Linked DNA regions of Homo sapiens: regions 2 and 3 are each linked to region 1. Evidence: fine-mapped QTL for protein levels in blood plasma. Region 1 holds a variant in brackets. A gene starts in each other region. All regions are shown on their reverse strands.

Region 1 (8,179 bases):
AGAAAGCAAGGCAACACACCGGGTCTGATACCTGAATGAGAGATTGGCAGGGGCTTATGATGGTCACAGGTAACCGATGTCCTGGAGATGAATGGGATTTCCTAGAAATTGTGATGTGAGATGAGACCTGGCAGAAAACACCAAAGTTTAAAGGGCAGGTGGTAGAAGCACAAACATTGGACAACGGAAATATTCGGGGGAAAATTTGGAGAATTTTTTGAAGGAAGCAGAGGTCAAAAGTACAAGGCTGGGCACGGTGGCTCACACCTATAATCCCAGCACTTTGGGAGGCCGAGGTGGATCACTTGAGGTCAGGAGTTCCAGACCAGCCTGGCTAACATAGTGAAACCCCGTCTCTACAAAAAGTACAAAAACTAGCCGGGTGTGGTGGTGCGTGCCTGTAGTCACAGCTACTTGGGAGGCTGAGGCAGAATTGCTTGAGCCCAGGAGGCGGAGATTGCAATGAGCCGAGATTGCGCCATTGCACTCCAGCCTGGGCGACAGAACAAGACTCTGTCTCTAATAATAATAATAATAATAATAATAATAATAATAATAATGTAGCAGTAAGGTAGGGCTAGCTGTGTATGAAAGTCATATCCCCTAAATGACGAAAATTTCCAAAAAGTCCAGGCTTTCACATTTAGGCAAAAATTCTTGTCAGAAGCAAAGCCAAAAGAATAGAAAGTATCGCTGCTTGTAATGGCAATGACCTTAATTAACTTTCTCCAATGTGCAGGATCAATGCCTTGTGTGGGGATTAATTTATGGCCTCAGTGGTTGCAATTGAGTGAGACTGAGAAATGAAGGCTTGGGGAAGCCAGGGGCAGCTGCATCCCAGCCTGAATACCAATCATTGGTTTAATAGATATGTTCCACATCATAGGTTTATTAATACCTTGTCTCCACTTCTAATCATTTCTGAAAGTGGGCAGGGTATAAATTAGAAATGGATTTGTAAATAAAATATTTGGTCAAAATGGAACAAGTCACACTGGCAGGGGAAATATTGCGATAGGCTGTGATTAAAATCCGTCTTTACCGGCACAGCCAGAAAAAAAAAATAGAGGTACACAGAGATCCTTGAAATTTTCAGTTTAAGGAGGAACTAAGCACCAAGCCACTGGAGCAGGTCCTACCGTGTGCTGGCCAGAGAGAGAGGGAGCCATCTCTTGGTTCTCCCAGGAACCTGGGCAGAGGCCAAGTGAGGATTGGTAAGGGCCCTCATCAGACAGGTGGGAAAACAGCAGCCTTGGTTCTAATTTAGGTTGGTGCAAACATAATTGCAGTTTTTGCCATTACTTTTTTTTTTTTTTTTTGAGATGGAGTCTTGCTCCATCACCCAGGCTGGAGTGCAGTGGCAGGATCTTGGCCCACTGCAACCTCCGCCTCACAGGTTCCAGCGAGTCTCCTGCCTCAGCCTCTGAAGTAGTTGGGATTACAGGTGCCCACCACCTCGCCTGGCTGTTTTTTTTTTTTTTTTTGTATTTTTAGTAGAGACAGGATTTCACCATGTTGGCCAGGCTGGTCTTGAACTCCAGACCGCAAGTGATCCACCCGCCTCTGCCTCCCAAAGTGCTGGGATTACAGGCATGAGCCACCACATCTGCCCAGTTTTTGCCATTCCTCTCAATGGCAAAAACTGCAATTACGTTTGCACCTACTTAATAGTTTTGATATGGTGTTAATTGTGGAGATTTTGCATTAATTTTAATTTTTTAAAAATGTCCCAGTCAGTGCATCCAAAACAACCAAAAGCAGGGCCTGAAGCAGAGCATGAACCCGTGTTGATAGCAGCAGTAAATCACAAGAGCCAAGAGTTGGAAACAACCCAGCGTCCATCAGTGGATGAGTGGATAAACAAAATATGGGAATACGTAGAGTGGGATATTGCTGAGCCTGAAAAAGGAAGGGAGTTCTGATACCTGGTACCGTGCAAATGAACCTTAAAGGCATTAGCAGTCGAGGGAAATGAGCCCGTCACAAAAGGACCAATACTCCATGATTCCGCTGATCCCGAGGTACCTAGAGGAGTCAAACTCCCAGAGACAGAAAGTGGAAGAGTGGCTGTGGGAAGGAGAGGACGCAGAGTTAGTGCTTGTGAGTTTCAGTTTGGGATGACGAAGAGTTCTGGAGATGCACGGTGTTCAGAGTTGCACAACAATGCGAGTGTATTTAACGTGATTGAACTCTACACGAAAATGTGATTAAGATGGTAATTTTACGTTATGTGTATTTTACCACAGTTCTTAAAAAATCACACTTAAGTCTGGATCTTGATGAACTAGTTGCTGGTCCTGCCTCTGCTGCCTTCTTTGCCTCACGGAAGATGATGGATGTAAAAACGCTGAGAAAGCCTGGGCAACATGGCGAAACCCTGTCTCTAAAAAAAAATTGCAGAAATTAGCCGGGTGTGGTGGCACGTGCCTGTGGTCCCAGCCACTCGGGAGGCTGAGACAGGAGGATCGCTTGAGCCCAGGAGGTCAAGGCTGCAGTGAGCTGAAGTCGCACCACTGCACTCCAGCCTGGGCAGCAAGTAAGACTCTGTCTCAATAATAATAATAATAAAATTAATAAAAAAACAAAAAACGCTGAGAAATTGCAAGTGTGACAGGACATCAAGGTGTGCTGTGGGTCAAAGTCACATAGTTCCAGGAGGCGAGGTGGTCGGATCACCCGAGGTCAGGAGTTCGAGACCAGCCTGGCCAACATGGCGAAACCCCGTCTCTACTAAAAGTACAAAAATTAGCCAGGTGTGGTGGTGGGCGCCTGTAGTCCCAGCTACTCAGGAGGCTGAGGCAGAAGAATCGCTTGAATCTGGGAGGCGGAGGTTGCAGTGAGCTGAGATCATGCCACTGCACTCCAGCCTGGGCAACAGAGCAAGACTCTGTCTCAAAAAAAAAAAACAAAAAAACACACAGTTCCCACAGCAAGGAATGAGAAGCCAGTAGCTTCTGAGGCCAACCAAGGCTTCAGGGCAGATGGCACTGTTTGTTCTGTGGTTGGGCTCTGGGTGGCCTTCAGAGCAGGGCCTGCATGGACCCTGAAGTGAGGCCTTCAGTCCCTGGCAAAGCCAACCATTTTCCCCTGTGGACATCCTTCTGGCAAGCAGCATTTGGCGGGTGGGGAGTAAGACGTTTTCCCTCATTGGTTTGGTCAACTTTATTTTGCTTTGCTGCGTTGCCTCTTTCTGGGGCAGATGCCAGGATGTGTGGCTCTCTGGCGGCCAGCCTCCAACCCTTTGGTTTGTATCGCAGTTCTGGCTGTGCTGAAGTATATCTTGGAAGAGTTAAAAGCCTGGGAAGCCGAATGTATTCTGTTTGGTGGATATTCCATTCAGATGTGTTTTGGGGGGACCGACCCATAGGCATCCATGGGGAAGTAGAAAATGCATGCCAAGGCCCCGGGCATGGTGGCTCACGCCTGTAATCCCAGCACTCTGGGAGGCTGAGGCAGGTGGATCACCTGAGGTCAGGAGTTCGAGACCATCCTGGCCAACATGGTGAAACCCCGTCTCTACCAAAAATAAATTAGCTGGGTGTGGTGGCCGGCACTTGTAATCCCAGCTACTCGGGAGGCTAAGGCAGGAGCATTGCTTGAACCCGGGAGGCGGAGGTTGCAGTGAGCTGAGATCACACCACTGCACTCCAGCCTGGGTGACAGAGCAAGACACCATCTAAAGAAAAAAAAAAAAAAAGAAAAAAGAAAAGAAAAGAAAAAATGCATGCCAGTCTGATTCTGCTAAAAGTAAAAATAGTAATAAAAGAATAATATTGGAGCCAGGCATGGTGGCTCACACCTGTAATCCCAGCTACTCCAGAGACTGAGGCAGGAGGACATCTGGAGCCCAGAAGTTTGAGGCCAGCCTGGGCAGCATAGCAAGACTCCGATCTGTTAAAAAAAAAAAAAAAAAAAGGCTGGGTGTGGTGGCTCATGCCCGTAATCCCAGCAATTTGGGAGGCCAAGGCTAGCGGATCGCTTGAGCCCAGGAGTTAGAGACCAGCCTGGGCAACATATCAAAACCCTGTCTCAACAAAAAACAAAAAAAAATTAGCTGGGTGTGGTCTGCGCACGCTTGCAGTCCCTACTACTTGGGAGGCTGAGGTAGGAGGATCACTTGAGCCCAGGAACTCGAGGCTATAGTGAGCTGTGATTGTGCCACTGTACTCCAGCCTGGGCACTGTACTCCAACGTGAGACCCTGTCTCAAAAAAGAAAAAAAGAAAAACACCAATAATATCAACCTCCAAAATGGTTATCAATGGGATGAAGTTATCGCTCTTCCTTCTTACTCATAAATCATGGCCCCAGCTCCCTGGCTGGCCAGGACAGTCATCTTCTGATTCTCCTTTACCTGGAGCAAGTTTGTTTCCTGGCTGGATCTTTGCGTCTTTGAGTGAGTCTCCTCTGACACCCCTCCTAGCCCAGCCCACACCCCCGAGATACCGCAGGCGAACTGAAATAATGAACTTCCCCTCAGCTTTTAGATGGGACCAGTAAGAGGTTGATATGGGGGCTGATGGTTGTAGTTTTCCTCCAGAACAGGCGTAATCACACATTTTTCATACAGGGTCAGATAGTAAATATTTTCAGCATTGCGGGATGGAAGATCTCTGTTGAAACTACTCAATGGTGACGAAAGCAGCCATAGAATGGGCGTGGCTTGGTGTTAATCTAACTTTATTTACAGACATTGAGATGTGAATTTCTTATCATTTTCATGTGTCATGAGATATTCTTCTTCTTTTTATCTGTAAATTATTTTATTTTTATTTTTTATAGAGATGGAGTCTTGCTGTGTTGCCCAGGGTGGTCTCAAACTCCTGGCCTCAAACAATCTTCTTGCCTCAGCCTTCCAAATTACTGAAATTACAGGTGTGAGCCGTGATGCCCAGTTCCTTGATTGTTTTGGGGGTTTTTTTGTTTTGTTTTGTTTTTTGAGATGGAGTCTCACTCTGTCGCCCAGGCTGGAGTGCAATGGCGTGATCTCGGCTCATTGCAACCTCTGCCTCCCGGGTTCAAGCAGTTCTCCTGCCTCAGCCTGCCGAGTAGCTGGGATTACAGGCACATGCCACCATGCCCGGCTAATTTTTTGTGTTTTTAATAGAGATGGGGTTTCATCATCTTGCCCAGGCTAGTCTTGAACTCCTGACCTTGTGATCCACCTATGTTGGCCTCCCAAAGTGTTGGGATTACAGGCGTGAGCCACCACGCTTGGCCTTTTTTAAAAAAAAAAAATTTTATTTATTTTTTTAACAATTTAAAACTGTAAAAACTACCTTTTGCTTGTGGGCCATACAGCAAGAGGGGGCAGGCCAGGTGTGGCCTATGGGCCATAGTTTGCCAAACCCTGCCCTAGAAGCGTGAACTCCAGTGGGTTCTCCGGGGTGCAAGGCAAGGATCCCATCTGCCGATCATGTCTGAACTCCACTTTGGAAGCCTGGGCAAGTACTGCGGGGTTTTGGAAGGCAGAAGAGTGCAAATCATGGCTCTCCATGTGGCCCTAAGTGTCTAACTGCTAAGCCCTGCTTCCTGATGTTCTTCACAAGAAAAATCCAACATCAGAAATCAGACACTGGCTGGCTGCTTTAGCGCTGTGTTGGCACCAGGTGCGTTGCATGCCAGGCTCTAGAAATAACCCCTCCTATTTTTAACACCCTTGCTTCATCAGAGGGTTTCTAGTTTCTCCCGAAAACAATCTCAGGGCCTAGAGATACGAGTTGGAATTCAGAGCCTCTAAGCCACGTGCGTTGCCCTCTTGTCCCCACAAAAGACCTCAACATACCCGGGTGACCGGCCTTTCCTTCTCATTCGGCGTCAGGGGAGCCCCTGATGTGACTGGGAATCCGAGCGATTTCTATGCAAGGCTCCAGGAAAGCATGAGTTTTCTGAGAGCTTTTTATTTCAAGCCACAGTCAGATTCTACCCAGTTAAAAATGCTTCCCAGGGCTCCTGGAAGCCAAGGAGGGGACGCTGGGCTCACCAGAGAGGGTGTGTTTTATCACCGAGAAAGAGACAGGCTGGCTATTTACACGGAACACCCAGCTGGCAAACACAGGTTGTCCCTGCAATGTTCATAAAGGACAACTGGAGGCAGCTTATCAGAGGCTGGTACAGTGGGGACACCTCTGAGCTCCAGGGGAAGTTGGGCCCCTGCAAACACCTGTCCACCTGCTGGCTCTGCCTCCCCCAACTGTGGCCAGGTTAGGACTCACGTCTTGCTCTATTCCCAGGGGAGCCTGCGGCAGCCCAGAGGAACTCAGAGAGAGGAAGCAGCCTGCGACTGTTGCAGGGGGGCAGATGGGAGCAGGGTGGGGCTAAAATTGCTCCCGCCTCCTCTCTGGAAGGTTCCAGGCCAAGACCCCGCTTCCTGGGGAAGAAGCCTGAGGGTCGCTAGGGCCGCAGGAGGGTTAGTGCTCGGGCTCAGCATCCATGCAGGACTCCCATGGGTTCCGGGGCATTCGAGGCAGGGAGAACAGCAGGAGGGCGAGAC[C/T]GCCGAGAAAGAGGAGGATGAAGGCGGCACAGGCGCAGGCAAAGGACCAGGAGTAATAGTACTCGATCCAGACGGTGTCCTCACTGTCAATCATGCGCTTCACCGACTGCCGCATGACCTCCACCGAGACGAGGATGCAGAGACCTGGGGGCAGAGCCAGGCATGCTCAGGGACCGAGGGGCGTCTGCCGTAGCCACCAGCCCCATCCCAGCCTGTGTGCATGGAGGAGGCGGTGACCTTGCCTTGGGGGAAAAGCTGCCTCAAGGCAGGTTCTAGATGGGAACCTGCAGAAGGATCCATTTGTCCACCCACCACCCTATTCCTGCATCCCTCAGAAGGGCAACCATGTGGCCAGGTGTGGTGGCTCACACCTGTAATCCCAGCACTTTGGGAGGCTGAGGCAGGAGGATCGCTTGAGGCCAGGAGTTTGAGACCAGCCTGGCAACATAGTGATGAGCCCTCCGTCTCTACAAAAAATTAAAATACAATGAAAAATTAGCCAGGTGTGGTGGTGCACGTCTGTAGTCCCAGCTACTAGGAGGCTGGGGCGGGAGGAACCCTTGAACCCAGGAGTTCGAGGCTGCAGTGAGCTGTGATTGTGCCACTGCACTCCAGCCTGGATGACAGAGCGAGACCCTCTTCCTCATCCCCCAAGAAAAAGAAAGAAAGGTGACCACGTTTCTTTCCTTCTTTTGTTAATCATTCTCTGGGCAGTTTCTTTGGGGCCTTGAGGGTTGAGTCGTGGAGAGGAATGGACAAACCGCCAAGCTCTGTCTCCCTCCAACCCACCTGGAGTCGCTGATGGCCTGGCCAGGTTTGCCCCTGGATGGGGATGGAGCCTGGGAAATGCCCCTCACCCAAATCTCGCGGTGGGCATGAGGGTGGAGCGGAGAATCCCCCGCGACATGGTCCCCCGGCCCCGGCGCTCAGGCAGATCCCCCAGTCTACCTGCAAAGGCATAGAACATGGACGCGGGTCGCAGCAGATAGTCCCTCTTCTTCCCGAGGGACAGGAGGACACAGAGGCTGCCCAGGATGATGAAGCCAAGGCTGAAGATGGCGATGGCGGCTGCCGAGATGCTGTACTCTGCAAACACAAGGGACACCCAGCATGCGGCCTCAGCATGGGAGCTCTTGTCATGGCTCGTTAGGGACCACACCATGCACCACAGTGTGTGTGTCAGTGTCTGTGTGTGTCATTGTGTGTGTGTCAAGTGTGTGTCTCTGTGTCTGTCTTGTGTGTGTCATTGTATGTGTGTATCTGTGTGTGTGTCAGTGTCTGTGTGTGTCATTGTGTGTCATGCATATGTGTCAGTGTGTGTCTCTGTGTCTGTCATTGTACGTGTGTGTCAGTGTGTGTCTCTGTGTCTGTGTCATTGTACGTGTGTGTCAGTGTGTGTCTGTGTGTGTCACTGTGTGTCATTTTGTGTGTCATCATGCATGTGTATCAGTGTGTGTCTGTGTCACTGTGTGTCATTTTGTGTGTCATCATGCGTGTGTGTCAGTGTCTCTGTGCGTCTGTGTCTTGTGTGTGTCGTGTGTGTGTATCTGTGTTGTGTGTGTCTGTGTGTGTCAGTGTGTGTCTGTGTGTCTGCCCACTCACCCTGTGTGCAGCTGTCTGGGCGCAGGCAGGCACGGGTCTGTACTCCCGACAATGGGTGTGCGTCTGAGCTCTGCGGATCCTGAAA
Region 2 (8,179 bases), not on the chromosome of region 1:
GGAGGGGCGGGACCGGCAGGCCAGGGCGGGCCATGGCTGCCTGCGGAGACTGCGGCCCAGGGGACAAGGGCACGTGGGGAGCCCGACCCTGTTTCCCTGCCTCTGGCTCTTAGGCCCAGGGGACAGCTGGCCCTTACCTCCTTCTGCCCACCCTCCACGTGGCAACCATAGTCTGAGCTCCCCAAATTGGCTCTGACAGGATGATGGACATTCTTCATGCCCTTCTGAACGCTACCAGGGAGGTCTGCCAAGCAGCTACCCCCGCTGTTGCCAAGAGTGTGACCCCCCGGTGCCCCTTCCCACTGGCCTTGTCCACACAGGGCCACGCTGATCTGGAAATCCGTCAGCCCTTGTCCTGGGTCCTGGGTCTGGGGTTTGGGTTTGCAGTCCTGGAAGTCTGGGTTTAGAGTCCTGGGGCTTGAGTCCTGGATCTGGGGTCTGGGTTTAGAATCCTGGTTCCTGTGTCTGGGGTCTGGGGTCCGGAGTCTGGGTTGAAGGTCCGGGTTTACCATCCTGGGTCTTGGAGTCTTTGGTCAGGGTTTGGGTGCCAGGATCTGGGTCTAGGTCTCCACAGTGGGGTCTAGTCCTGGAATCTGGGTTCTGGGTTCTGAGTTTGGCACTCAAATTGTGAGACCTGAGTCTGGGGTCTGAGCTTGGGGTTCCGGTTTCCTGATCTGGGGTCTGGGTTGGGATTCTGGGTTCTGGGGTTTGAGTTCAGGAACCAAAGGTCGGTTCCCATCCCTTCTGCGCCCCCTGCTGGCTGATCGTGGTCCAGTCACTGCCTGTACCACAGGGGTCACCCTCACCTCTTTAGTCTGTGAAGAGCACGCCTGAATTGGGGTGGGCATGGGGAAGTGGTGGGTGGGCTTGGAGGCAGCTGCTGGCCGCACTACTGTCCCAGAGTGCCCTCTGCACCGCCAGAGCTCCTGTCAGTCAGTTGGCAAATCTCCCCATCTCTCCGGGCCCACTCCAGGACAGGGTTTAGCAAGGGGTTCCAGTACCTCTGTGAGAGGTGGGTAAACTGAGATATTTGGAACATTTGTTCATCCAGCATTTATTGAATGCCTGTGGTGTACCAGGTCCTGGGAAAATGTAGCTGTGGAAGAGCAGAACATTCCTCCCTCCTGTGATGGCTGACATTCATAGGAAGGCGGACACACGGAAGACGCCAGGTAACAAGAGCCCAGAAGAAGGCCGGCGTGGCCGGGCTTTCCTGCCTTAGTCCACAGGCTCCTCAGAAGTCAGGGCCCATATCTTCCCCGCATTCTCCTTGGCTGGGGGAAGGGAGAGGTAAGTGGCTGCCTGAGAGGGCTCTGGGACATGGCGTGTGCCAGCCTGCAGCACACTGGGCTGCAGCTCAGACATCAGAGCTTTGGGAGCTGAAGCAGTAGGACCCAGACCCCCAGCCCTGGCTCTCCAGGCCCCCGAGGCCCTGCCCAGATCCTGCCTGCTAGGCTGACTCCTGAAGGGCACAAAGCTCAGGTTGGGATGTGGGAGAGAGAGGGAAGTGCCAGGCATGGTGTGGCCTGTTCTTACCGCCAACTGCTGCCCACCCTCCCTCCCTCCACCCCCAACTCCCTGCCCACCTTCCTGCCTCCTGTTCACCCCATGCCTTGCTCCTGGTCTCGGTGTGCCTGGGAGGGCTCTGGCTGGTCCTGAAGAGTGCCTACTGGGGGCTAGGCAGTTGTTATAGGTTTGAGGGTGGGCCTGTGGGTGAGTCCTGGGGCACTGTTGTTCCCAAGCCAGCAGGGACATGCCCAGAATCAGAGCTCAGGCAGTCACCATCCTGGCCCTAGCCTTCATCTGGGTCCTGATGAGGGAGTGAGGATGGCTCTGTGCACCCTGTCCCTGCTGCAGGACCACGTTTGCCCTGTGTGTGACAGGAGGGGCCCAAGCCACTGCCTTGACTCTGCCACACACAGGTGGAGGAAGGTGGCACTATGTGGCTCTGGCTGGCTGCATGAGCCTGCCCATCCCAGATCACAGACCTGGACACTGAGGCCCAGGATGCTCTTGTCACTGGCTTACCCCCATTTGGGCCAACGTTGGGTGGTTTCCAAGGGGTGGTAATTGTGTGAGGATGAAAGAAATGAGATGGGAGAGAGGGCCCTGTATATGTCCTCTGCTCTGGCCCTCTGCTTCCCTCATGATGAACACAAGGAAATTGGTCTTGTTGGCGGTGTCTGTGGGTGGCTGGGGCTCCCGTGTGACTTCCAGAGCCCGTTGTCCTGAGGGTCGGCAGGCCTGGGTGGTGGGGCCTCCCCGGGGCCCCTCTGTGTGGCCCTCTGGCTGTCTTCTCCTCTTGTGGTATTTCTGGCTCGTCTCCACTGACCATCCCCCCACCCCTTTCTTTCTCAATACTGTTGCCAAACATTTGGAAGAAAAGTGAAAAACTTGCCCCCCCGCCAGTCCCGGATGTTGTCAGATTTCCAGATGTGGGTGTTCTGCCCTCCAGATGAGAGGCAGAACGTGTTCCAGTCAGGAGCGGGCTGGCCCCAGCCCTGGACTGCTGTCCCTCCCTGTGAGGCGGAGTGACAGGATGAGAGGGACTGGGCCCAGTAGGAAGACAGCAGGGCGTGCCAGGTAGAGGCCCTGGGCCCCACAGCACCTCTCAGCCTCAGGCTTAGCCCCTTGCCACACCAGGGAAATCCCTGGCTTTGAAGTTTCTATCAAAGGCTCCAGGCACTTAAAAGTAACCAGGAGCACCTCCTTCCCACCCCCCAGGCACAGATGCTGGGCAAGGAACAGAGCCCAATGTGTTTACAAGATGTCCCCACTGTTGGCGTCCCCATGCGGGAAGAGCCTTGTGCCACCTCAGCCCTCCCACCTCCCCAAGTGGCAGTCCCGTCAGGCTGTACTCTGTCACTGTCATCTGCTGAAGGCTGGGCTTGGGATGGACCCTGGGGGCCGGGCACTGCAGGATGGGCACTGGGGGTGGGCACTGAGTGGTAGGAACAGGGAATGAGCATCACTGCACTGGGGCAGACCCTGCTTGGCAGCTTGGGGTTCCTCAGAGAGGCAGACCCTCTCAGAGCCCCTGCCAAAAGGGTCGGCAGAGGGCAACATGTGGCAGTGGAATAGCATTGGAGAGAGCTTTCTGGAAGAGGGCCAGTAGAGCCAAGCCTTGAATATGTCAGGCAGAGGGGGCGAGGGCACTCTGGGCAGAGGGTGCAGTGGGGAGCCAGGCCTGGGGTGTGTAGGGAAATGTGCATCCCTGGGGCCTGTAGAGAGGGGAAGTAGGAATCTAGGGGTGAAAGCTGAGAAACTGGTCCCTGGGCCAGCAGGGGCTGAAGAGGGAGGCTGCTGAACTGGCCTGGGGCGACTGCCCTAGAGGGAGCAGCATCCTTTCTCTTGCCCTTTGTGGGGGTTCCTGGAGACCCTTGGACCCATAGCCAGGGCTACAGCTGCCTGCCATGACCAGACACTCACATACAGACACATGTAAACACCCAGACATAAACACACAGAAGCAACACCCGCAGACACACTCACATAGACACATAGACACACCACGCACACATAAAGACCCAGACCCACAGAGACAAATGCAGACACCCGGGCCATCCCTTACATAGACACAGATACGGAGCACACATAGGCACGCACAGAGCCCCCCACCACGGAGGCACCCAGACAATACACACAGGTGTACACAGACCCCCCTCCACACAAACACAGACACAGAGAGACCCACAGACACATAGACACCCCGACACAGACACAGACAACACACACAGACACATGCTGACTTCCGCCTTCCCCCACATGGACACGGTCATAGACACAGACACAGACACAGGGGACTTTGGAGAGCTTAAGTTCAGAGGTGCCCTTAGATCATCCCAGTCCTTCTGGCCCCAACACAACACGTAGCATGTACTTGGTCCACCCTTCTTCACCTCTTCAACTTACGGACCTGCAGAGAGGCAGCAGGGCCCTGTGTGGGTATGTGCGGGTGTGCAGATGAGTGTGTGTGTATGTGTGTATGTGTGTGTTAAGCAGTGGCCTTTGTCCCCCTCTCTCCCTCCCCCTTCCCAACAGGTGATTGGGAGGAATGGAGATCCCTCCTCCACTACCCATTCCTGAGCCTGAACAATGCCCTCCCCAGGCCCCAAAATAGCCCCTAAGCCTAGCCATATCCTTTTATGGCCCTGTCCCTATTGTGCACTGCAGGGGTGGGGCTGGGGTCATGAGGTATCCGGGCAGGATAAAGGCCTGGGTGAGGCGGCTCACCTACCCTGCTTTCTGCATTCTTCTCTCCACATCCCTCTCTGTACTTACAGCCCCCAATGGCCCCCAAAAAGCCAGAGCCCAAGAAGGATGATGCCAAGGCAGCCCCCAAGGCAGCTCCAGCTCCCGCACCTCCCCCTGAGCCTGAGCGCCCTAAGGAGGTCGAGTTTGATGCTTCCAAGATCAAGGTGGGTATGGAAGCTGGGTGGTGGCAATAGGAGCAGGGCAAGTGAGTGGATCCCAGAGTGGACCTAGCAAGAGGCAGGTCAGGCTCTGGAGGTGAGCACTGAGCTGACGCTGGAAGCTTCTGTGCAGAGGTCAGACAAGCCCTGACTGCTTCAGGCATCAGAAGGGCTGCAGCAGGAGGGATGGTGGTCAGACGTTCTGCAGGACTCCTCTGGTGCTGCTGAGAACTAAGGTGGAGTCTAGACTGGGGTTTGAGTCTGGACTGTCTTTTTAGTGGTTTTGGAAATGGACTCTCCCTTGCCCTTCTTCCTGGACTTCTCATCCTTGGGGAATCCTGGAGTCAGCTGGAGCCAGGCAGGGATTTTCCTTGTTCAGCTGAGGGGTCCCAAGTCCATACACGCTCCCAGCGTGGATGAGATAGGGAGTAAGAAGAAGCAGGGCCCCTGTCCAGGCTGGGTCTCGTTCAAATCACCGAGCCCAGAGCTGGTAGAGCACTTCCAGGCCTCAGCTTTTAGGTAGGGAACTTGAAGCATCAGCTGGCTGGGGACATTCTGAAAGCTGTGCAGGAAGCTGGTCATGGAGCTATGACCAGTGGCCCCAGGAGCCCTTCCCCAACTGCAAAGTCTTTCTCAGAGTCTAAACTTGGAGGGAGCCATGACTCCCACCTGTGGTATCTGCATAGCAGCACGTACCCTGTGTCCTGCCTGCTCCCTGTTCTTGGCTGGGACCACTGCTGCCCTGGCTGCCTCCTCAGGAGCCCTGTGGAACCCTCGCCATCCCTGCATGCCCAGCAGGACCTACATTCCATCGGTGAAGTCTTGCCTCCTGTTCATGAGCCCTTCCCAGAGACACCTACCATGTCCTTTGAGGCAAGGGTTCAAATCCCAACTCTGCTCCATTTTAGTTGCCAAGTTCTTCGCTGCTCTGAGGCGTGGTTTCCTCAGCTGTGAAACAGAACAGCAAGTCCCCTCTTGCAGGGCTGCTGGGAACCATTCAGAGTATATGCACCTGGAGTTGGCCACCCAGGTCCCAGGCTTGCATTCTGCAGGCCTCATGGTGAGGCTGTGACCACAGCCACGGCCCATAGTGGCATTGTCCTTTCTCGCCAGGCCTTAGGTTGGCACAGACTTCCTTCTGAGAGGTGGGGACAATGAGACCCCTCATGCGCCCTCTTCCCCCATCCCCAGGTTGCAGGTAAAGGGCAGGGAGCCTTTGCCAGGAGCCCAGAGACCCTAATCTCAGTAGGCTTCCTGGTGGAGAGAGCTCTCAGGGAGCCAGGAATGACAACCTGTTCTTCCCAACACTGGGTCAAGCCAGAAGCCAGGAGGGACAGTCATGGTAGGGTGGCCCTGAACAGGGTGTCCCTCTGTGCCGGCATGCACTGTGGAGATTGGTGGGGCTCCGTGGCAGCAGCCATGAGAGAGACGCCAGTCATGCCCCTCCCCCAACCTCCTTTCCCTTGTGTGACCTTGACCTTGGGGCGAGTGACTGCAGTGATAAAAATAGACCTGGTATCCGGTGAGGAGGGGGACACTGGATCCCGGGAGGCCTCTTGATTGACGTCAATCAAGGTGGCCCCAATGTGACTTCAGCAAACACTCAGCAGCACTGCCCTGGCCCTGTGCTGTCCTGGGGTGTGGGAGCTTCCCAGGGACCTACGGACAGGGTGTGTGAGAAATAGGTATAGTGGGGCTGGTGAGTGACTGCCTGGTCTTTAGGGCTTAGGGGGCTCTGTGAGGGCAGACGTATGTAGACACATGCTCACACACAAACATGCACACTTGTGCTCACCCTCGATGCTTCCAGCCACCAGCCCTCGGCCTGTACCATTGCCCTTACTCCTTCTACCACCCTGGGCCCTCCCATCTCACTTTTGCTGACAGTCCTGCCCACCAGGCCCCAAGCAAAGCCAGCCTGACTGGGGCTTGTGGCTTAAGGTACATCTGTCCAGAACCGGGAGCATCAGGTAAGGCCCACGCTGGCCTGAGGCCTTGGGCATGTGGCCTCCCTCCTCACTGCTACCCCTGCCAGGGTCCACCGAGCATCAGGGCCTCGGTGCACACAGCCTCAAGGCCTTCTGGCTGGAGAGGTGGAGGGGGGCAAGGAGGCAGGAGGGCGTCAAGATGGACTGCAGGAGGTCCTGGGGGTGCAGGCTGGGATGCTGGAATGGGACAGGCTGAGACAGTTGACATTCTGGGCTGGCCACCGAGTGCCCAGGAGGAGGTGTGGCCCCACCTTTTAAGCCGGGCATCTGAGTCTTTGGGGTCTCTTTTCAGATTGAGTTCACACCTGAGCAGATTGAAGGTGAGCAGGGGTCTTGAACCCAGGGGTTGCAGGATTGGGCTGGGGTTCCCTGGTCTGAGGGTCCTGCCAGGGGTGTGGGGAGTGGGGTAGGCTGACCCTGGGAGTGTCTGTGGCTCACTGCCCTCTCCTGGCAGAGTTCAAGGAAGCCTTCATGCTGTTCGACCGCACACCCAAGTGTGAGATGAAGATCACCTACGGGCAGTGTGGGGATGTCCTGCGGGCGCTGGGCCAGAACCCCACACAGGCAGAAGTGCTCCGTGTCCTGGGGAAGCCAAGACAGGAAGGTAGTGCACCTGCCCGAGAGCCCCCATAGTGTTAGTACCGGGGAGACTGGCTGGGTGGGCTGCCATCCATCCTGCGGGATAGCACGAGAATCTTTCCTGACATCTCGCATTGTCCCGATGAGGGCACCGAGGCCAGTCACAGGGCCATGCCGACCAGGTGACATGCAGTAATGGTTTGCTGGAGCATCTGGATCCATGCTGATTTGCCAGGCCCCCTGGTGGTAGGCGCTGACACCTATGGAGAAGTGAGAAGGTCGGGCAGTGACAGCAGTGGGCAGTGGGATGCTGTCATCCCAATGCTTTGGGAGGATCACTTGAGGCCAGGAGTGAGACCAGCCTGGGTAACATAGTGAGATTCTATCTCTACAAAAATTAAAAATTTAGCTTGGCATGGTGACATGCACCTATGGTCCCAGCTACTCAGGAAGCTGAGCCAGGAGGATCCCGTGAGCCCAGGAATTTGAGGTTGCAGTGAGCTATAATCACACCACTGTACTCCAGTCTGTGTGACGTAACAAGAAGACCTCGTGTCTAAAAATAAATAAATGAATGAATAAATACATAAATGAATAAAATTTTAAAGCTAAAAAAAAAAAAAGGAGTGAGGCCCAAGCCCCCACCAAGGGTTCAAAAGTCCCAGGGAAGGTCTCTGATTGGCCTAGCTGCTCCTGACCCAATCACAGGTGGTGGAGGGTGAGGTCTATAAGAAAATGCCACGAGGGGAGGACTGTTTCCCAAAAGTAGGCAAGGGGTTCTGGACAGAGCCCTCCGTGGTGGCTCAGGGCAGCAAACTCCCTTTGTGAATAGCAAAGGGCTATGGAAACAGTGCATTGCTCAGTAGACTGTAAAGTGCCTCGCGATGGTAGTTTGCTTTTAAATGGCAAACTGGTGTAGACTGCTGTGAGAACTGGTGTAGACTGTTGTAGAACTGTGTGAGAGGTGGGGATAGCTCCTCATTATCAGGCATGGGGGAGGGGTGTGCCCACCCCAGCCTTAGACCCTGGAACCTGGGACCATTTCTCTGCAGAGCTCAATACCAAGATGATGGACTTTGAAACTTTCCTGCCTATGCTCCAGCACATTTCCAAGAACAAGGACACAGGCACCTATGAGGACTTCGTGGAGGGGCTGCGGGTCTTCGACAAGGAGGGCAATGGCACTGTCATGGGTGCTGA
Region 3 (8,179 bases), not on the chromosome of region 1:
GACAAGTGGATCTCTTGAGCCCAGGAGTTCGAGAACAGCCTGGGCAATATTGTGAGGCCCCCATCTCTACTAAAAATAACAAAATCAGCTATTAGCTGGGCATGATGGCATGCATCTGTGGTCCTAGCTACCGGGGAGGCTGAGGTGGGAGGATTGCTTGAGCCTGGGAGGCAGAGTTTGCAGTGAGCCATGATTGCACCACTGCATTCCAGCCTGGGTGACAGAATGAGACCTTTTCTCAAAAAGATAAAAAATAAATAAAAAATTAAAGGAATCCAGTTAACAGTTGTCGCAGGATGTTAAAGAATCAGGCTTTATGGTTTTAATCATTACATATTCCAGAGGTAAAATTCTGAGGAAATCATTTTTATGGGTTTAACAGCCATTCATACTATTCTTTAATGAACAGAGATTCTGCCACGGAAGAAAGGCTATTGCAATTGTCTAGTTTGAGGTTGATAAAATTTCTTTTTGACTGGAAAAGAGAAATTTCCAGTGAAAGGTGATTTCTTGGCCGGGCACAGTGGCTCATGCCTGTAATCCCAGCACTCTGGGAGGCAGAGGCAGGTGGACCACCTGAGGTCAGCGGTTCGAGACCAGCCTGGCCAACATGGCGAAACCTCGTCTCTACTAAAAATACAAAAATTAGCTGGGCGTGTTGGTGGGCACCTGTAATCCCAGCTACTTGAGATACTGAGGCACAAGAATCACTTGAACCTGGGAGGCAAAGGCTGCAGTGAGCGGAGACTGTGGCACTGCACTCCAGCCTGGGCCACAGAGTGAGATACTGTCTTAAAAAAAAAAAAAAAAAAAAAGAAAGGTGATTTCTTTACACAGTAGGAACCGGGGGCAATTAACTTTCGGGCACTTACTTGTACTCAATTAATAATTGATATATAAATGAATGTATCAAAGGCATCCTGGGAGATCCCCACAAATCTGAAACTGCCTACAACATCCTCCCAATTTGATCGGAATAACTTAATTGTACTAGGCCTTAGGTTCTGTAAGAATCCAAAGTGGTGTAAGGTAAGTTTTATCTGGAATAGACAGTACAAATAACATAGTTCTCCAAAGAATACATAATATACAATTGATGATGGTAGAAAGTAGAACAATGGGAAGTGGTTACTCCTTAAGAATAATACTTGCTTTCTCCAAAAGGGCTCACTGAGCCACCCAGCATATTCCAAGAGTCTAAACAAGGACCGTTGACTAATTACTTCCATTAGACTTCCTCTTCGAGATCCAAAGTTACATCTGTCCTTCCTCCTTCTCCTTAGAAGAACCAGCTCTCCCAAGATCTAAGAAGAAAACTCCCAGAATTAGGCCACGGTAGGCTGGGAAGTAGTTGAGTGAGACATTTTTTGTACCTTCAGGTGCTGAAAACTCAGCCTCTTTTGAGGAGTTGCCAGATCCTCCTGGATCCTAGGAGGGCCAAACCAGCTCATGTGTCCTATTAAGATTCACAGCAAGTGGTCATGGCCTTCCTGGGCATGGCTTTACGAGCTGTGGGGAAGAGTTCAGAAGACCCATATGGGCTGGAGGAGCCTGTTCTTTGGGAGGGTTTCTGCAGGTATTTTGAAATGATTCTGAAGAACTGGCTCTAGGCCATGTTTTATTTTTCAGAGGGAGGCTTATATGCAATCAAACTAACCCCAGTGAAAATGAAATCACAGTTAGGAGAAGAAGAAAGGACCAGAATAGTTCATGAATTGCCGTACTCCTTACTCTTCTAATGTAAACAATATTAAAATGCAATTATTTCACTAAGGAAAGCTTTTCAAGGTACAGTTCCTTTAAGAATCAGTTCTGCTGGTAAGGGAACCAAAAAAATCTCTGTACTTCCTCAATGGATTTTAAATATATCAGTAACTCTTCTTGCCCCAATCCCCATCATCCAAATTTACACTAACCAAAGAATTTATGGGTATAAAATTACTGTCCTGGGTGGAGGAACTCCTACACAGAATAGCAACATGCTTTTATAGCAAAAGAAGATGATGGAGTCTTTAGCATCCATGCTGTTTTATTCAGAAAGAAAAAAATATATATTGGGGGGGTGGGGGCTGAAGTTAAAGATATATTTTCCTCTTTGCAGCTCTATAATTTCATTCCCCATAAAAGAGTGAATCAGACTGAGTTGTCAAATGAAAAGTAAACTTCATCGCCTTTGCGATCAGAATAATTTAATTAGCTTTATTGGCTCTTACAGGCTGTCACCTTATTTATTGGTTTTTCAGCTTTCTTCTCATTTTCAATTAGGCTTTAAAAAAACAAATGCAAAATCATTCACTAAATTCAGAATAATTAAAACAATATTGTGTTTCCAGTTTGGAAACATGGTAGAATGTATTGCTTCTGGGTACACTTCGGAGAGGTTAAAGTGACAGAGCAGATAAAAAGGACACTTAGTACACACGTAAATCATTTGCATTACAAATAAGATACTTTAGCAGGGGTTGGACTCCCTGCCTGACAGTCAGGATTAAGTTCCCATATTAATACATGCATTTGGTGTGGTTATTTTGGGTGAAAGACTTCATCCATCAATGCCCTCTGCCACTAAGTAAGGCCAACCTGTAAACTGATCACCACAGCCTGTCAACACTGGTTACTTAATTATATAAAGAAAATATGTTTAAAAGACTTTTGATAATTTGGTTAGTATTTCAACATCTTTTTCAAGGTTCCTTAAAATAATAGCTAAAGCATTTTTAAGAATTAAAAACTGAAAACTATGACTATTTTTATGTTTCCTGCTAATCTTTCTTTTTCTTTTATTTGCAGAAGGGAAAAATAAAGATTCAGTAAGCATTAATGAAGATGAATATAAATGAAATAATATTTTTAAAAGATATTTTAATTAAAAATTAAATTCAATGCATGCATAGTATTAATTTGTGCTTATTATTATTTATTTTCATAACTACTAATTCCAATTTACTTCTGTTACCAATTGGTAGCTTTAATACACTAATTTTTTTATAGAAAGGAGAAACTTTGTTAGGGAAAACATTTCTTCTAAGGAAGAATATTTTTATACTTTCAGCTTAACTATTCTTAAAGCCTACTACATATTATGAAATTCTCTACAATAAAACTCATGAAAGAACAATCTATTCATGATATTCAGGGACATCCTTTTTTATCAGGTGTTTGGTTTTCTTTCCATGCAAGAATTTAATAACGAACCTCCAAAGGCACTGATAAGAACAAAAAAAACCCTTCGTCTGTATATTTTAAATATGTTTCCATTAAAAAAAGTAGCAAATATGGAAATAATGTCACAAATTCTTTTTTGAAATCTTGATCCAATGTATTAACCATTTGAGAAAATATTTTAAGTCTCCTACTCTCTGCAAATTGCAAATACATGGTAAAAAATTTGTGATTAAATCTAAGAAAATATGCTTGAAAACGTAATCTGTTTACCATCAGCAATTAACATCCTTAAATTACACTTTAAGGATTCTTTACAATTGAATGATAGAATTATCATTTGATAATTTTAGTCAATATCCCTTTAGAAACTATCGTTATCAGAAATTTTTCAATTCAATATACTCTCGCTGTATTTTTCCTCTGGTCTGTTTAATCTAAAAGATCGTTTCCTTAAATCATAGTGATTTTATTTTCTCATCTAGTTAAGATATTTGTTATTTGTTTGAAGATAAATACCAAAATAAACACTTTATTCAGGAGTACAACAAAAAGATTTCTAGATAAGTCTTACCCTCTTTCTTAGTGGGTTCTGGCATGGCCACAATAAGATGTTATTCTTTAAAGAGTCTCCTTCCCTCCACGACTAGTTGACAGAAACCCCACAGGCAGGCGAGAGATGGTGCAGGTCGGTGTGACAAGCAGTTGGGGAGAAACCCAGTGCTTTTATACTGCCTCTGAACATCAATCATGATGGCACCTCCCTTTCTTCAGCACAAGGATGCAGGAACTTGACAGCTATGGGGACCTTTCTCACATCTGTTGTCTGCACTCTGCTCTCTCGCCTACTGGAAGGAATCTCCTGCCCATCTCATGTGGCTGATGAGAACACCTCTAACTTTCTAAATTCAGCTGCAGCCTCGTGCTCCGTCTTGCTCTTCTCTCTCTGACAGATGCATGTGCTGACTCAGGAGTGCAAAAAGTTTGCTGGATGATTAAAAAAACAAATTAAAAATCATAATATGCCAATCCAACCTATACCTTAATTTTCACTAAGATTAGGCAGAAAAGTCTTTGTATTCAGATGATCACTTTTATGCTCCAATTAGCTTTTCATTTTCATCAGTCCTTAATTATTGCATTTATATTTTTTCTTATTCCTCATTGATATGTCAATATTAATTTTTCAAGCCAAATCTCTAGGTTAAATAACTTGTCTCATGTTCTTCTCTAAGAATAGCAAAGATTTCTATTAGGGGATACTCTGCGTTTGCATTTTTTTCCAAAAACATCATTTTTCAAAATTATAGGACATATAAAAGAATGAGGCAATGACACATGCTACAACGTGGATGAAGCTTGAGAACATTACACTAAGTGAAAGAAGTCAGTCAGACATACAAACGTAGACTATAAAATAATAGATCACTGCTGGGCTCATGCCTGCAATCCCAGCACTTTGGGAGGCTGAGGGGGGTGGATCTCCTGAGGTCAGGAGTTCGAGACCAGCCTGAACAACATAAAGAAACCCCGTCTCTACTAAAAATACAAAATTAGCTGGGCATGGTGGTGCATGCCTGTAATCCCAGCTACTCGGGAGGCTGAGACAGGAGAATCACTTGAACCCAGGAGGCGGAGGTTGTGGTGAGCCGAGATTGTACCATTGCACTCCAGCCTATGCAACAAGAGCGAAACTCCATCTCAAATTAATAATAATAATAATAAAAAATAATAGAACACACATTGTACAATTCCACTTATATGAAATATCTAGGACAGGCAAATCCATATGGTGAGAAAGTATATCAGTGTTTGCCAGTGGCCTAAGGGAGGTGGAATTGGGAGTGACTGCCAGTGCATATGGGGTTTCTTTTGGTCATGATGAAAATGTTCTGGCATTAGATAGTGGTGATGGTTGTACAACTTTGTGAATATATTAAAAACCACTGGATTATACACTTAAAAATATATATGGAGGCTGGGTGCAGTGCTGGGGCCTATAATCCCAGCATTTTGGGAGGCCAAGGTGGGAAGATCACTTGAAGCCAGGAGTTGGAGACCAGCCTGGGTAACAAACCAAGACCCTGTCTCTACAAAAAATAAAAATAAAATAAAAAGATATATATGGGGCCTGGGCAAAGAAAGTCAAATAGACTAGTAGCTATTGTTTTGATTCAAGTGATTCAATTGGAGGGTACACAAATCTAACTTAAGATGTTGAAAGACTGTAGTAGATGTGGTCACTTTCTCCCAAAACGCTCATGGAACTGATAGAGAAATAGGAACTACCAAGTAGTCAACCTGAAGAAGACACCTTACTTTCTTTGTTCACATGCACTAGGACTAACCTGAGTTTATATGAAAAGACAACTACACACATGCCTTTATTGGTGTGTGTTTTCAAGATAATTTTCAAAAACTTTGATTGATTGGTACTGAAGCAGCCACACTGTCTCGTCTAATTTCCCTTGTGGCTGAGAGTGCAGCTGGTCAGACTTAGCTCTACCAAACTCTGTGCCAAGCTGACTTTTCATATAAGGGTGGAAACTAGACTTAGAACTCAATAGCATCATGCTTTAGTTATGTGGCGGGGAGGGGGAGGAAGCCAGTCAAGATGGTAATGAACATCTTTTATAAAGACAGCCCCTCCTTAACCACATTATACTACTGAACACATTTTTGTACTTTAAAAAAAAAAAACGTTCCTTTGCTGAGTCCGCTCTGGGGATATCAATTAATAGATGAAACATATGAAAGAACCTAGAATCTGAAGTTGGTCCCTTGGGTTCTATTTCTGGATCTATCATTAACCAGCTTAGTTACTCTGAGAAAGTCAGGGGGCTTTCTGGGCCTCAGTTTCTTTTTGTGTAAAATGAGGGGCTTAAAAAAAATGATCTTGGAGGCTGCTGATAGGTTTAACACTGTGATTCTACTTGGGAAATCTCTAAGAGAGAATTGTTTTTTTCAGCATTCCCAGCACACTGAACACCACATATGAAATGGACATAGGGCAGAGTGTCATGTTGCATAAGAATGTTTACAGCGAAGGGCAGATTTCACACATGCCACAAAAGAGGTGCCATGCCATCATTGGCTTCTGCAGAAACCCCATTGGGTTTTTAATACACTGATCGTCTTACTGAAGTGAACATATGCCAGGAAATATTGCAATCCACAGAGAAAGTATTTTATGACCTGGGGAACTTTTTGGTAATAAAGGAATTAATTATAAAAAGGCAAAGCATTATTATAGGAATTGGAAGTATGGACAAATTCTAGGACAAATTATTGTACAGTGTATCAGGTGGTTAAGGTAAAATTTTAAATTAGGATAACAAGTAGACTTGTGTAATTTTCCTAGGGCTATATTGTTTTAGGAATACATAACTCCTATTTCAGATCTTATGCATTCATCTAGAAGGTTGCAGATGCCTTAGCTGTACTCTCAGGAAAGACAGGGGGATGGTCAACAGGCTTTTGTTTCTTTTGCTAAATGCTGTATTAGATTTTTCCTTTTGTATTATTGAGGATGAAGTTTGTTCAAATACAACACAAAACTACAAAATACCAACAGTTGAATCAAGATAGAAGTATTTCTCCCTCATATAAAGCAAGTCTAAAAGCAAATGGCTTAGAGTCATACAGTGGCTTCACAGTGTATCCAGGAAACCAGACTCCTCCTTCTTGCTCTACCATCCTCCTGGTAACCTCATGGTCCAAAATAGCTGTGTATCTTCTAGACACTACATTCCTATTCCAGGCAGCTGAAAAGAAGAAGAAGAAGAAGAAGAAGAAGAAGAAGAAGAAGAAGAAGAAGAAGAAGAAGGAGAAGGAGAAGGAGAAGGAGAAGGAGAAGGAGAAGGAGAAGGAGAAGGAGAAGGAGAAGGAGAAGGAGAAGAGGAAGAGGAAGAAGTCACTTTCTTCATTTTAAAGAGACTTGTTTGAAGTCCCACACACATCTACTACATCCCACAGGCCAGAACTTGGTTACATGGCTATATCTGACTACAAAAGGAGCTGGGAAATGTAGTCTTATTCTCAGGTAAAATTGGAATTCTGTTATTAAAGAGACCAAGGAGAATGGATGTCAGATAGGCAAGTATCAATCTCTCACCTTTCAAAATAAAAGCAATAGTGTTCTCCGCGTTAACCAAAGAATATGGAGAAGTATAAATAGTAAATAAGCAATCTCAAGAATTTCACTCTCTCCCCAACCTCATCCTCATTCCAGTGTGTGAATTAGGGTCTAATTTTCCTTTGTGCTCATACATACGTGTATAAATGTATATATTCATATGTAGAGAGTTCTTCATCTATTTTTTAATGAATGGGATTATACTATTTACATTATTTTCCACTTTCTTTTTCCATGTAACCTCCTCTCACAGACATTCATTCATGTTAATATACATAGACCTAACTCAATCTTTTTTAATAGCTAAATAATTGTTCATGGTATGGATGTGCTGTAGTATGCCATATTTTCTCAATCACATACCTTTTGATGGGCATTCAGGTTGTTTTCAGTGTTTGACCACCATAACTAATACTGCAATCAGCATCATGGTAAAATAACAGAAACTGGTGGTGGTATGTCTCTCTGGTAAGTTGGAGGCACATGGCGGGTGTGGATGGGTGGGGAATAAACAACTTTAAACCTCTAATTCACACAATAAAGAAGAGCAAATTATAGAAGAAATAAAGTTTTAAGTTAAAAAATTAAACAATAAAAATATTTGAAGAACAATTATGACAGTGTTTGAATAATACTCTCATAAGTGGAGACACGTGTTAAAGTAAGAAAATCTAGAAGCTATAGAGAAGGTAACAGATTTGAGTAAATAAAATATTAAAATTCTTTATCTCTAGCAAAGACACCATAAAATCAAAAAGTAAAAAAGGAAAGGAGAAAAAGTTATTTTAAACCCATCATAGAGTTAATATTATTAATTTAAAAGTAGAGTAGAAGATTTCAAAAAGCAATTTACAGAAGAAATAGAAACCATGAATACATACG

Alleles and levels. Alleles are on the strand shown, and positions count from the first base shown. The strength of an association depends on the size of the effect and on how common the allele is.
In carriers of allele C in region 1, the plasma level of the protein whose gene starts at base 4,236 in region 2 tends to be lower than with T alone (weak association).
For the plasma level of the protein whose gene starts at base 3,861 in region 3, T is the high allele of the variant in region 1 and C is the other (weak association).

What was found. A credible set is the group of variants that fine-mapping cannot tell apart. PIP is the chance, under the fine-mapping model, that this variant and not a neighbour inherited with it causes the effect. The UK Biobank Pharma Proteomics Project read protein levels with antibody pairs (Olink). The fine-mapping took linkage between variants from a reference panel, not from the people measured, so its PIPs are less certain.
Region 2: it holds the start of MYL3, and the variant in region 1 is the best candidate, but not a certain one, in a credible set for the plasma level of the MYL3 protein (UK Biobank, PIP 0.73).
Region 3: MYBPC1 starts here. The variant in region 1 is the best candidate, but not a certain one, in a credible set for the plasma level of the MYBPC1 protein (UK Biobank, PIP 0.60).

The regions. Positions count from the first base shown.
Region 1 is chr17:67,054,502-67,062,680 of GRCh38, reverse strand. It overlaps CACNG1 (calcium voltage-gated channel auxiliary subunit gamma 1), which reads right to left. Exons shown (of 4, transcript NM_000727.4): 3 at 7,441-7,578; 4 at 5,884-6,636. The coding sequence ends at 6,410. Among named protein-coding and RNA genes, the nearest start is that of CACNG1, 14 kb to the right of the region's middle. The variant C/T (reference allele first, on the strand shown) is at 6,493.
Region 2 is chr3:46,859,501-46,867,679 of GRCh38, reverse strand. MYL3 (myosin light chain 3) reads left to right here and starts at 4,236. Exons shown (of 7, transcript NM_000258.3): 1 at 4,236-4,418; 2 at 6,693-6,720; 3 at 6,855-7,004; 4 at 8,032-8,179. The coding sequence starts at 4,290. RefSeq lists an enhancer at 6,884-7,384.
Region 3 is chr12:101,590,653-101,598,831 of GRCh38, reverse strand. It overlaps MYBPC1 (myosin binding protein C1), which reads right to left and starts at 3,861. Exons shown (of 32, transcript NM_002465.4): 1 at 3,737-3,861. The coding sequence starts at 3,761. LOC105369938 (a long non-coding RNA gene) reads left to right here. Exons shown (of 5, transcript XR_001749279.2): 5 at 1-278.